Homo sapiens: one gene and its partner. The protein of the gene in region 2 interacts with the protein of the main gene of each other region in a biochemical or structural test. Each region holds a gene or a part of one and is shown on either strand. Other genes may lie near its edges.

Region 1 (5,368 bases), on a different chromosome or scaffold from region 2:
ACACCCAGAGTCGCCGGACTTTCATCAAGTCAGTACCGCCATTTCTGCGCACCCATGGCTTTGATGGGCTGGACCTTGCCTGGCTCTACCCTGGACGGAGAGACAAACAGCATTTTACCACCCTAATCAAGGTGCTGGTCAGGTCAGGGACAGGGAGGGAGGTGGGCAGGCATGAGGGAATGGGGTGGGCTAGAAGCCGGCGTCAGCTGCTGTCCTCCTGAGGACAGGTAAAGAGGGACTTCAGCCTCAGGGCAGTGTCCTGGGACCCTGTGCCCTGAAGATCTCACATAGCAAGGAAGGCTTCTTGTGACCATGGTGGGAGGTGGGAATGGGGTTCTAAGAGGTGGAAGGTTGTGACTGAGCAGAGCACCCACTTATAACTACCCACTTAGTGCATTGCCCATTGCCCACCCTTCAATCCCATACTGATGCCACCCATACCCAGCATGCACTGTGTCCAGCAGCTCTCAGCTCTGCCTGGGGGCAGCCTAAGTATCTCCAGTTACCAGGGGCAGAAGGAGAGTCTAAACAAATTGTTCACAATACCAGCAGCAATCACTTTAACTTTGGGATTTCATGCACCAGCTAGAACAAAGCACAGACCGAAAGGCAAATGTCTCCCAAAGTCATCTGTGGGCCAATAGGGGTCACCCACTGTCCGATGCTCCCTCCAGGACAGGGAGTAATTGAGTGCTGATGGGTGTGCATGGGTTTGGGGAGAAGATTAGTCAGTTTTTTAGGAAAAGGATGGGTGACTTGAGGATGGGACCACTGATGAGCCACTTTATCACTTCCACTAGGCCCCAGGCAGGTTGGGGAGTACAGCAAATGGGTTGCGCAGAGACCTAGTCCGCCCTCGATGAGTCTACCTCTCATGCCACTTGGGACCCTTTCTCTCACCTGCCTGTCTCCCATCTAGGAAATGAAGGCCGAATTTATAAAGGAAGCCCAGCCAGGGAAAAAGCAGCTCCTGCTCAGCGCAGCACTGTCTGCGGGGAAGGTCACCATTGACAGCAGCTATGACATTGCCAAGATATCCCAGTGAGTCTCCTGCCCCAGGCAGCCTCCCCAGAACCTCTGCCAACACTCCTGTTTCCCCGCCACCCCCAGCCCTAGCACTCCATGTAGACTGAGGACACTGGGCTTCCAGTCCCAGTTCTTCCAAAGCCTTGATGTGTGACCTTGAGCAAGTCACTTCCCTGCCCTGTGCCTCAGTTTCCCCATCTGTCAAATGAGGCATAACAATCCTTGCCTTTCCTTTTTCACCTGGGCTGTTGGCTGAGCAGTTGAGAGAGCTGCTATGAAAGTATTTTGGAAAGGGAAGTGGAAAAAGCTATTCAAACCCTCCAGCTATTGCAGAGTATTTTCTCCACACCAGGCAGAGCAGAGTGCTGGGCCCTGGAGAGGCCACACAGCAGCCTCTTTCTAGAGTGCTGGGGAGTCCTCAAGGCTCTCTCATACACACAGGCCTCCCCCTTTCCTGTTGGCCCCACGCCTCATCCTCACCCCACCCCTCATGCCTGTGAGGAACAAGGAACAGCCAAGCAGCCTCATCTCTCCTGAGAGCAGAGCCATGGGTCTCGGGAAACCCAGGAGTAAGGAACAAAGACTCTTCAAAATGACTTCAGAGCTTTCTTTAGGATCCCAGGGAGGTGTAAACTCAGTGCTTAATTAAATGGATTCTTTAGAGGGTGGGAAACAGGTGGATGTCAACCATTTGCCCCACATACCCGTATTCATGCAATCCACCCCCAGTGGGCTCACCGGTGCGGGTGTGCAAAACCTCCTCCCACCCCAGTCATCTTAGGTTCAGGTCATCCTTTGGTCCTGCTCTTTCCCCGCCAGGCTGTCTGTTGATGCTACTTTTAATCTGCTTTCACTAAGATAAGCCTGGCAGAAGTGGTGGGGGTAAGGTGGGCTGTAGGCCAGCTCCCAAATGTGTGCTGGGCATAACAGAAGACCCATTCTTGACTGAAGTGCCCTTGTGGGACCCTGAGCCCGTGCCCTGGAGTGGCACAGGGAGGTGTGCCAGCAATGGGGACCGAGGTCACTGGGGACTGCTGGGGTTCGGGCTAGTGGCCTGTCTGGCTGCTGTCTGCTTCCCTCGTTCACATCCTGCTGGAGCCTTAAATAGGAGCCCAAAAGCTTTTCTTTCTTACTTTTTTTTGAGACAAAATCTCACTCTGTTGCCCAGGCCGGAGTGCAGTGGCACAACCTCTGCCGCCTGGGTTCAAGCGATTCTCCTGCCTCAGCCTCCCGAGTAGCTGGGATTACAGGTGCCTGCCACCATGCCTGGCTAATTTTCGTAGTTAGAGTAGAGACGGGGTTTCACCATCTTGGCCAGGCTGGTCTTGAACTCCTCACCTCATGATCCACCTGCCTCGGCCTCCCAAAGTGCTGGGATTCCAGGTATGAGCCACCACGCCCGGCCTAAAGCTTTTCTATTAATAATTTCCTGCCTCACCCTCCATCCCCTTCCTCCTCAGACACCTGGATTTCATTAGCATCATGACCTACGATTTTCATGGAGCCTGGCGTGGGACCACAGGCCATCACAGTCCCCTGTTCCGAGGTCAGGAGGATGCAAGTCCTGACAGATTCAGCAACACTGTGAGTTCCCAGAAGGAGGGAGGGCCAGGAGGGGGCCGCAAGACCTGCCATCTGCCAGTGCTCACACACCAATCTCTCTAGCCCTCAGTACAGTCCTGCAAGAGGGGGGTCATGAGGCCCATTCCACAGATAAGGAAACTGAGGCCCAAAGTCTGGGCATGCTGCGTTGCTCTGGGAAGGTGATCTGCAGGGTAAATGGAGTGAGGGCAGGGGGCCGAATGGGGAGAGGCTGGGAGCCGAGGAGGTAGGAGTCATTGTGCCCTCAGAGCCAACCACCTGATTTCTGCATCTGTCAAATAGTAATAGCCCCTTCCTATGCCTCAAAGGATTTTTTTCAAGAATGAAACTGTAAAATTCACTTTAAAGTGACATGATCCGTTCCCGGAGGGACAGGGGAATCCCCAGTGCACCATACACCAATAACCCCTGCTAAGGCAGCAGTATTAATTGCTCAACCTTCCGCACCTGTGCACTAACTGCTCACGTTGTTCCCACCCTACCCCACCCAGGACTATGCTGTGGGGTACATGTTGAGGCTGGGGGCTCCTGCCAGTAAGCTGGTGATGGGCATCCCCACCTTCGGGAGGAGCTTCACTCTGGCTTCTTCTGAGACTGGTGTTGGAGCCCCAATCTCAGGACCGGGAATTCCAGGCCGGTTCACCAAGGAGGCAGGGACCCTTGCCTACTATGAGGTAATGGAGTTGGGGAGAAGGTAGGATTCCCCCACACCACCAGCAGCCCTGGGGAAGGTGATTCCCCACCACGTTCTTGCTTTTTCTCCTTTGGGAATAAAGAAAATGTCCGGTTGCCCCAGCATGCCTGAGGAAGTGGAAGGGAGAGGTTAGGACATTTGTTGCTGAAAATCTCCAGCAGGTACAGGCACATGGGCCTGCACCACTAGGCACCTGGGATAGCCCTCTGGCTATGGGGCTGAGGTCTTCCTTCCAGCCCAGGAAAGAGCAGAGGTCAAGAGGCAGATTTTTTGTTTCACTCTAGCCTCTGCTACTCTGTGTGGCCTTGGGCCTGTCCTCAGTGTCAACCAGCAGGCCTCACATCTCTGTTTAAATGGAAGAAGCTAAGCAGGGCCAAGGCAGCCACCATCTCTGGGTCATTTGCCTCTGGTTTGTATAAACTTGTGTGATGCATGCAGCCTGCAGACCCTGCAGAGAGTGAGGCTGCAGGATGGAGCAGGAGCTAAAAGAGATTTGGAGAGTGGCGTCTCCTGGTGACCTGCAAGGTCTCGGCACGACTCCCCACACTGCCTTTTCCCTGTTATCTGCTCAGATCTGTGACTTCCTCCGCGGAGCCACAGTCCATAGAATCCTCGGCCAGCAGGTCCCCTATGCCACCAAGGGCAACCAGTGGGTAGGATACGACGACCAGGAAAGCGTCAAAAGCAAGGTAGGTTTCCCCAAGGCCACACCTCAGGACAAAGAGAAAGAAGGAGGCCCCGCTCCCAGCAGCCAGATTCCTGTCCCTTGCACTGAGGTCTGGGCTGGGCTCACAGAGCACATGTGCCCTGTACACACTCTGGGTCAGGGAACCCAGCCCTGCTCCTCTGGGCCTCCCCTGCCAGGTGCAGTACCTGAAGGACAGGCAGCTGGCGGGCGCCATGGTATGGGCCCTGGACCTGGATGACTTCCAGGGCTCCTTCTGTGGCCAGGATCTGCGCTTCCCTCTCACCAATGCCATCAAGGATGCACTCGCTGCAACGTAGCCCTCTGTTCTGCACACAGCACGGGGGCCAAGGATGCCCCGTCCCCCTCTGGCTCCAGCTGGCCGGGAGCCTGATCACCTGCCCTGCTGAGTCCCAGGCTGAGCCTCAGTCTCCCTCCCTTGGGGCCTATGCAGAGGTCCACAACACACAGATTTGAGCTCAGCCCTGGTGGGCAGAGAGGTAGGGATGGGGCTGTGGGGATAGTGAGGCATCGCAATGTAAGACTCGGGATTAGTACACACTTGTTGATTAATGGAAATGTTTACAGATCCCCAAGCCTGGCAAGGGAATTTCTTCAACTCCCTGCCCCCCAGCCCTCCTTATCAAAGGACACCATTTTGGCAAGCTCTATCACCAAGGAGCCAAACATCCTACAAGACACAGTGACCATACTAATTATACCCCCTGCAAAGCCCAGCTTGAAACCTTCACTTAGGAACGTAATCGTGTCCCCTATCCTACTTCCCCTTCCTAATTCCACAGCTGCTCAATAAAGTACAAGAGCTTAACAGTGTGTTGGCGCTTTGCTTTGGTCTATCTTTGAGCGCCCACTAGACCCACTGGACTCACCTCCCCCATCTCTTCTGGGTTCCTTCCTCTGAGCCTTGGGACCCCTGAGCTTGCAGAGATGAGGCCGCCATGTCCTCTGCCTAGCCGCAGAGAGCCCCAGTGGGAGGCCAGCGTCCTCAGATTCACCTGCCTTGGACTTAACCCAAGCATGGCTGATGGCCTTCCAAATATTAAAGTCATTGCCATCCAGATTTCTAAATTAAATTCCCTGTTGAAAGAAACGTTTTCTGTTTCCTGAAGGCTAGCAGGCCCTGGGAAAGAAGGCTTTTCATCCCAACACTCCCTCTCTTCTGATCCACAGGAAGGTGGTGGGAGCTCATCACAGGACCAGGTTAGAAAGCCCTGAACCCTGGACCCTCAGGGCCAGCAGGAAATGCAGATGTCATCTCATGCACCCTTCCTGCCTCTCGGGACTGGAGTCCCTGCAGAGTGCTTGAGAGATGGCCCTCCAGCCTCCCAGTGAGGGGCAGC
Region 2 (7,382 bases):
AAAAGATGAGACAAAGTCAAGCTTAGAAACCTCCATGGTATAGTGAGCTATATTAATAAGACTAATAAATCATTAATACCCTGGAGAGTTCCCAATATCTAAGACAATCCTAGAGACTATTTGATACAATGCCACAGATACATTTCCAGCAGAGCTCACCTCTGTATGTCATATCATTTTATGAGATCATTTGAATCTTAACATCTAATTCCAAATAAAAACAAAAACTTTTGGAAGGGAAAAAAAACTTTATGGCAGAAACTTGAGCTATATCTGCTTGGAATCAAATAGATAATTTTCATATACCATAGGCACATTACTTGGCAAATCATGCCACATTTCAAAATATAATATGAAACCTTCAAGAAATACATAAACTAAAACCCTGGAAGTAACCAGAAAAATACAGACAAATCATGAGCTTCTGGAGGACAAAAATCATTTATTATTTATTCATATATTCCTGATACCTAGTAGAGTGCCCAGCACAAAGTTGATCAATAAATGCTCAATTTGAATTGTCTCTTGAAACTACCTAGCTGAATTAGAGAGGTAACAGAATGTCATCTACAACAGAAATCTTTGAATATACATGCTTGTTGAGTATATAAGTAGTTAATAATTCAAAACATTTTCATTGAGCTCTTACTACAATATATACAACGAACCATAATCCTGCGACCCTCTGTGGGAAGGGTACAAAGATAAATAAGCCTTGTCTCCTACAGTAGAAAAGGTCACAGGTCAGTAGCATGTATAAGGCCCACATCCAAGAATATAAGCAATTGTAAAATACAGTGAAATGCTCTTCTAGTGAAGTGCTGCTCTTCAAGTTCATATTGCACGAGACCGAGTTTTTTGTTTTTGTTTTTGTTTTTTTTCTTGTTCTTCCAATGGCAATCTTAACACTGGATGGGGTGAAAACAGATATAGCAGGATGCATAGGAGACAGAAGCGGGTGTGGAAGCTTTTTATATCCTAATTAGAACTATTGAGATATGGGAATTGGAGCGGACACTAAAGTCAGGAATCACAAAGTAACACCTGATGATCACTCTGATACGGCAAATGCATGCTTTACTTACCTTCCATGTTTCACTACCAATGTTTCGGTATTTTAGTTCATATTCCACTGTGCATTCCTTAAAATGATCCAGAGACAGTGGGGGTTGCCATTGCAAATAGAGATAACCTAAGTATCCGGGATCCACTATCTCAAAATCCTGAGGAGGGTTAACTGAAATAAATCAATAAAACACTTTTATTTTTTCTGTATTTTATGACAAATATTGCTAAATCTAGATGGCTTCCAAATGTGCACCAATTGATTAACAGATAAACAAAATGTGCTACATGCATACAATCAAATATTATTCAGCCATAAAAAGACATGAAGTACTGATTCATGCTACAACATGGATGAACCTTGAGAACATTATACTAACTGAAAGAAGCCAGACACAAAAGACCACATATTGACATAGTTCCATTTCTATGAAATTTCAAAATAGACAAATTCATAGAGAGAGAAAGTAGATTCGTGGTTGGTAGGGGCTGGAGGGAGAAACAATGCAGGGTGACTGCTTAATGGGTTTAGGGGCTGTTTTACGGGTGATGCAACTATTCTGGACTTTGATAGTGGTGATTGTTGCACAACTTTGTGAATATACTAAAAACCAACGTATAGTAAAGAGTTTTACTATACATGTATAGTTTTAAAGAATATAGTTTTGTATAAAGAGTTAGTTTTGTGTAAATTATATCTCAGTAAGGCTGTTAAAAAAATCTAGATTACTGCTATATAGTTGTTCCTTCTTTGAGAAATCACATATGCAAAATGTGACTTTGCCTCACTAGGTATTAATTTTTAGAGAAGCAAAAAATTCAATGTGGCTTTATCTCTGTGCTCATGTACGCCAGAATTTGGTCTAAGATGGGAACATTTTATTACAAAAATCTGTCTAACAATAACAATAACAAATAAGAACAACAAATAATAACAAATAATAACTAACATATCACTATAATATAAATATATGTATTTAATTATATTAATTATAATATAATATATAATATAATAATATACTATAAATAATTTTAATTAATTAATAATAAAACATTAACATTATATTAAATAATATAATATAATTGAAAAATTAAATAATTCTAATTATTTTTAAATTTTACGTTAAATTTCTGTACCTTTTTAATGTATCTAATTGTCATAAAAGCTAAGGATAGTAGCTAAGGATAGTAATTAAGGAACTGTTCCAGTTAGTTTAGTACCAGGCAATGAGGTTTCAGATACTTAATCTGTTAAAAAAGACTATACAAAAAGGTATGGAGAGTGTTTTTAATTTGGCATTTATCGCACAAAATGTGTGTCAACATCAGTTACCTTATACAAGAAAGTGACTAGTAAGAACATAGCTTTTTTTCATGAACTTCCTGAAATAGTTTCAATAACAATTCATCTACTAGTTAGTTATGCACTTCCATAAGGCAGGTCAAAAAGACAGTTAATTTTCCATTAAAATCCATTTAATTTTACTTTTCCTAATTTAAAAACTATTCCATTAAAATCCATTTACCTTTTATCTCGGTGTCTGAAGATGAAGTACAGCCAAATGTTGTGCTTATCAGAAAGGTATATAAGCATCCGATAGCCAAGCAAACGAAAGCCATTTCTCCGAGATTTAAAACCTTGATATTGCCTCTCTATGAAGGAAAAATATAACATTTTAACTTTATCTTACATCAAATAATCAAACTAAACGTGATTAAAAATACTTTGGAAAGCTCTCTGTGTGCTTCTCTACCAAGAACTGGGAAAACTGTGTCCACCTCAGACCATGGAAACAGAAATAATCAAGTTAGGAACCAATATAATTGGAAAGAAAGGATTCTAGTCTCATCCTGCTTACAAGAATAAAAACAAAGCTAAGCAAAAACCCTTGTAGCTCCTCACCTCCCCGCCGACAGGCACACTTCTGACCAGGTTATGGCGACTTCAAATAGCCTTCATCCGGAAGACCGTTAGACTCACGAGAGTGTTCTTACTGGTTCACAATGGAGTTATGATATCATCCATCTCCATAGCAACCGTCTCCCCTAGCAACACATAAAACACAGTCAAATACTCTTTTCTGAGGGGAAAAAAAGAAAAAAGAAAAAGAAAAAAGTATTTGAAAGTTATTTCGGCCGGGCATGGTGGCTCATGCCTGTAATCCCAGCACTTTCGGAGGCTGAGGCGGGTGGATCACCTGAAGTCAGGAGTTTGAGACAGCCTGGCCAACATGGTGAAATCCTTTCTCTACTAAAAATGCACAATTAGCCAGGCATGGTGGCGGGCGCCTGTAATCCCAGCTATTCGGAAGGCCGAGGCAGGAGAATGGCTTGAACCCGGGAGGCGGAGATTGCAGTGAGCCAAGATCCCACCATTGCACTCCAGCCTGGGCAATAGAGCGAGACTGTCTCTAAATAAATAAATAAAATAAAATAAAATAAAATAGAAAGTTATTTGACCACTGAGAAAGCTCAGAACCTAAACCGAAGCCTCAGAGAGTTCAAAACTTTGCTCTGTTTCCTCATAAATATTTCTTTTTTTAGTTTAAAAAAAGTGTTTATTTAGCTCTTTCGCCCCCTGCTGGACGATTGACTTTCTTCTTTGCTCCTTTTTTCTTTTAATTACTTCTTTTAATTAAAATTTTTTATTTCCATCTACTCTCATTATTGTTCCACTTTTTCCTGTGTTTCCTTTATTAGTAAATGGCATCGCCATCCTTCCAGTTGCCCAAACCAGAAACCTGGGAGTCTTCCTCAACTCCTCTCCCATCTAATCTCTCCATTACCACTACCACTTCCTAAATGGAGGATCTTAGCAGGGATCTCCTTATTCAGTCTTTCCTGCCTCTGATCCATTTTCCACACCATATACAGCAAGAGTGACCTTTCTAAAGGGCAAATCTGAACTTTTCATCTCTTTCTTAAACTAAAACAGCATTTCATTGCCATAGAATACAATTTAGTCATCTTTCTGTTCTTGGATATTGGTTCTTGACGGATATGATCAAAATTTAAAGGATTCATGCCTTCAAATAGCTACTCAATTAAAAATACTTTGCTTTTCAGGAAAAACTACTACTCCCAATTCCATACACTTCTCTTCGAATCTATATTCTGGAACCAACAATTTCACATAAAGTAAAGGATTAAAAGTCACTCAAAAGAAAAGAAGGGACTGCCCTTCTTTTCTTGTGCATAGATTAATTCAATAGGACAGACCCTCTCTTCCACCCCACCCTCTTCCCCCTACCTGATCCATCTGTAATATTGTAACTTTGGTAAGCCTCAATGGCTACTTTATAGAATCTTAGGATCAAATTTTTAGAACCAGTATGTATATTACAGACAAGGCTAGTCAAATTCTCTTTTATAAATTGGGCAGTAAAACTCAGACTTGCCCCACCCAAGATTACACAGCAAATTAGTAACAAAGCTGGAAGTAGAACAGAGATCTCATGATGCCCAGTCCTGTGCACTTCCACCCCATTCTGCTGGGTCCCACAGGCATGACTCAGGATTATGAACGCTTTTCCTCTGGAACCCCAGTGTTTAAATCTTCCTTTAATTAGCAAACCAAGCTGAATCAACACCATGTTATTTTAAAAATTCTGCGCCTCATAAAATCAGGAGAGAATGTCATTTCTCTCACTGAGGCCCAACAAATCTCTCTTTCTCCCCAATTCCTCTCTCTTTACTTGCCAGCCAATGGCTGCCCACTAATGCATCTGTAAGTACTAGGTAGATTTGGCTAACAGAAGGTTATGGATCTTCCACAGAGCTACCCTCAGAGATTAAGATGAACACACTGGTTACTACTGGGATCAGGGCAATAGGTCTGACAAAGAGAAAACCTTCCATATTACCTTTAAGGACTAAGGGCAATCAGGCTGCCCTTACAATGCTCTCAGAGAGATTCTAACAAAATTCTCTCTCCCCTATCGATCTGTCCTTTAAGATTTCGTAGCATTATGTCATGTACAGCATAAATGCTAAGTAAAGAGTTTAAAATCATTTGCTTCTATTCCATTTATAGGCTATGAAATCTGACTCAGGCTATCAAATAGCATTTCATGGATCAGACTGATCAATATACCCAAGCAAAGGTGGAAAATGGGATAACTAGCTTCTAGCATCACTTATGGATAAACCCACAAAAGGAGTTGCTGAATTACACCTAGGGCCCAACCAAGACTTTCTTACCCAAATGAACACAAAGACAATTCTCTCCTTTGCTTCTGGGTTACAGGATTGTCACTAGTGCAATGAGGGGCTTTATACACTATGTGGTTACCAGGAACACCGGAGTTTTTCACAAGGACCAGGGGGACCTGAAGACAAAGGGAAGATTAGAAAAGCAAATGCAGACATATTAGATTTGAAAAAGTTGTTTTTCTATATTTCAGACCCCCAGACCACAGTTCATAACCACTCATCTGGTCTTAGCTCCTCATTTTTAAAAATAAGGAAATAACAGCCAGAGAGGAAGGTAAGTAAGCCAAGTGTACACAACTTATTGGTGGCAGAGCTGGGATTGAAAACCATATCTCCTGAACCCTTTCCACTAACTAGCAAATAAATGTTCTTATCATAATGAATCTATCCTGCACCTATTTTACTAGAAGCCTCTTCCTAACTCCCAACCTTCCTCTACCTACTGTCACCACCCAAACCATCCAGCCCACCACACAGTTTTATCATTATGACATTTCTGACAGAGTAATAATTCAATAAATATTTATTGAGCATCTTTGGAAGTTTTTTGCCAGATACTATCCCAGCTAAATCTTGCAGAAGACACAAAGTGAAAGTGGCAACAGTCATAGTATCTGTCATAGTAATAGTACCTTCTAGTATTTATTCAACATCTCAGGCACTGCCCTGTGCTATGCAATTTATATGCATTATCTCATATAATCCTCACAATCAGACTTGGACATATATACTATTTTTAGTTCTATGTTATTTGTTTAAATTTTCTTTTTAACTTTAATTTTTAATTGATACATAATGATTGTACATATTTGTGGGGTACAGTGTAATGTTTTGATACATGGATAACGTTGTGTAATGATCAAATCACGGTAATTAGCATATACATCACCTCAAACATTTATCAGTTCTTTGTGGTAAAAACATTCAAATTCCTTTCTTCTAGCTTTTGAAAAATACAATTCATTATTGTTAGCTATACTCACCTTACTGTGCAATAGAAATCAGAATGTATTCCTCTTATCTAACTGTAACATTGTACCCATTCACCAACCTTTCCCCATCCCGGCTCCCTTATTCCCTCCCCAGCCTCTGGTAACTTCTATTCTACTCTCTACTCTATGAGATTAACTTTTTAAAGACCAGAAACTATGACATACAGAAGTCAAATGGCTTCCCTCAAGTCACACACCATAAATGGTGAAACTTGGATTTAAATCTAGACAATCTAGTACCAGAGCCCTTGATGGTAATCACTACACTAGGTATTTTCCATGCCTAAGATCAATGTGGAGGGGAGCTTTCTATTTCTACCCACTCAGTTTTACACAACACTTTTGAGATAGTTTCTCACTGAGAATCTCCTTTGGAATGGCAAACCTAAAGTGATTGCCTCTTCTCGGCCTCGCTTCTCCACCGCTTCAAAGTCATGCAACATAATACTCTCACTTTAACAGCTGGCTGCAATCTTTGCATTATTGGAGAAATTCCAGGTACTTACCAATCATATGGTTTCTCAAGAAATAGATTAACGTAAGCAGTTATCACAGGTCCTCTTTTGTTCTCCTCTCTACTTTAGAGACATTAATTAGAATCTCTAATACTTTCCTGCCTAATAATCAAGCACGTAGAAAATATTAGTTAGGTATTCCTGAAACAGTCACAGGGCCAGGACACAGATTCTACAAGCCACAAGATGGGGAAGTTATGGGTGAGGCCAAAAGCCATCTAAAGCAAATTTGGAATTATACCAAGGTGCTGTAAAAGCTGGCAGGACCAACTATTCTTTGGATAAAGTAACAGATACATAGCCGAGGAGCTTTTTATAATAAAAGACACAACGGTGTAAGTATCAATCTGGATTTCACTCCTGCCTCAACCACTGTGATAAGAGGTAAATTATATCTCAATTTGTATCTATAAAATGGAGGTAATGATACAAGCCTGGCAGGGGTGTCTTGAAGATTAAATAAGATAATGTATGTGAAAGTGCTAGAAGAATAGTAAATTGCTCTATATACTTGAGAGGGGTTTGCTTCTGAGGACACTGCCACTAAGCAACACTTGAAAATAACTTACCACATCCTACACATTTGCCTTTATTAATT

The links.
Region 1: the proteins of IL13RA2 (region 2) and CHI3L1 interact in a biophysical measurement, tested with the Homo sapiens proteins (one study listed by IntAct).

Annotation. Positions count from the first base shown.
Region 1 is NC_000001.11:203,178,404-203,183,771, reverse strand, and holds the end of CHI3L1 (chitinase-3-like protein 1 precursor), read left to right. Parts: coding exon 1-131; intron 132-919; coding exon 920-1,041; intron 1,042-1,467; coding exon of another isoform or gene 1,468-1,675; exon of another isoform or gene 1,676-2,486; coding exon 2,487-2,610; intron 2,611-3,119; coding exon 3,120-3,302; intron 3,303-3,894; coding exon 3,895-4,011; coding exon of another isoform or gene 4,012-4,186; coding exon 4,187-4,327; 3' UTR 4,328-4,841; downstream 4,842-5,368. UniProt on the Homo sapiens protein: Carbohydrate-binding lectin with a preference for chitin. Has no chitinase activity. May play a role in tissue remodeling and in the capacity of cells to respond to and cope with changes in their environment.
Region 2 is NC_000023.11:115,014,585-115,021,966, forward strand, and holds the start of IL13RA2 (interleukin-13 receptor subunit alpha-2 precursor), read right to left. Parts: upstream 3,033-7,382; 5' UTR 2,969-3,032; intron 2,719-2,968; 5' UTR 2,686-2,718; coding exon 2,592-2,685; intron 1,238-2,591; coding exon 1,086-1,237; intron 1-1,085. UniProt on the Homo sapiens protein: Cell surface receptor that plays a role in the regulation of IL-13-mediated responses. Functions as a decoy receptor that inhibits IL-13- and IL-4-mediated signal transduction via the JAK-STAT pathway and thereby modulates immune responses and inflammation.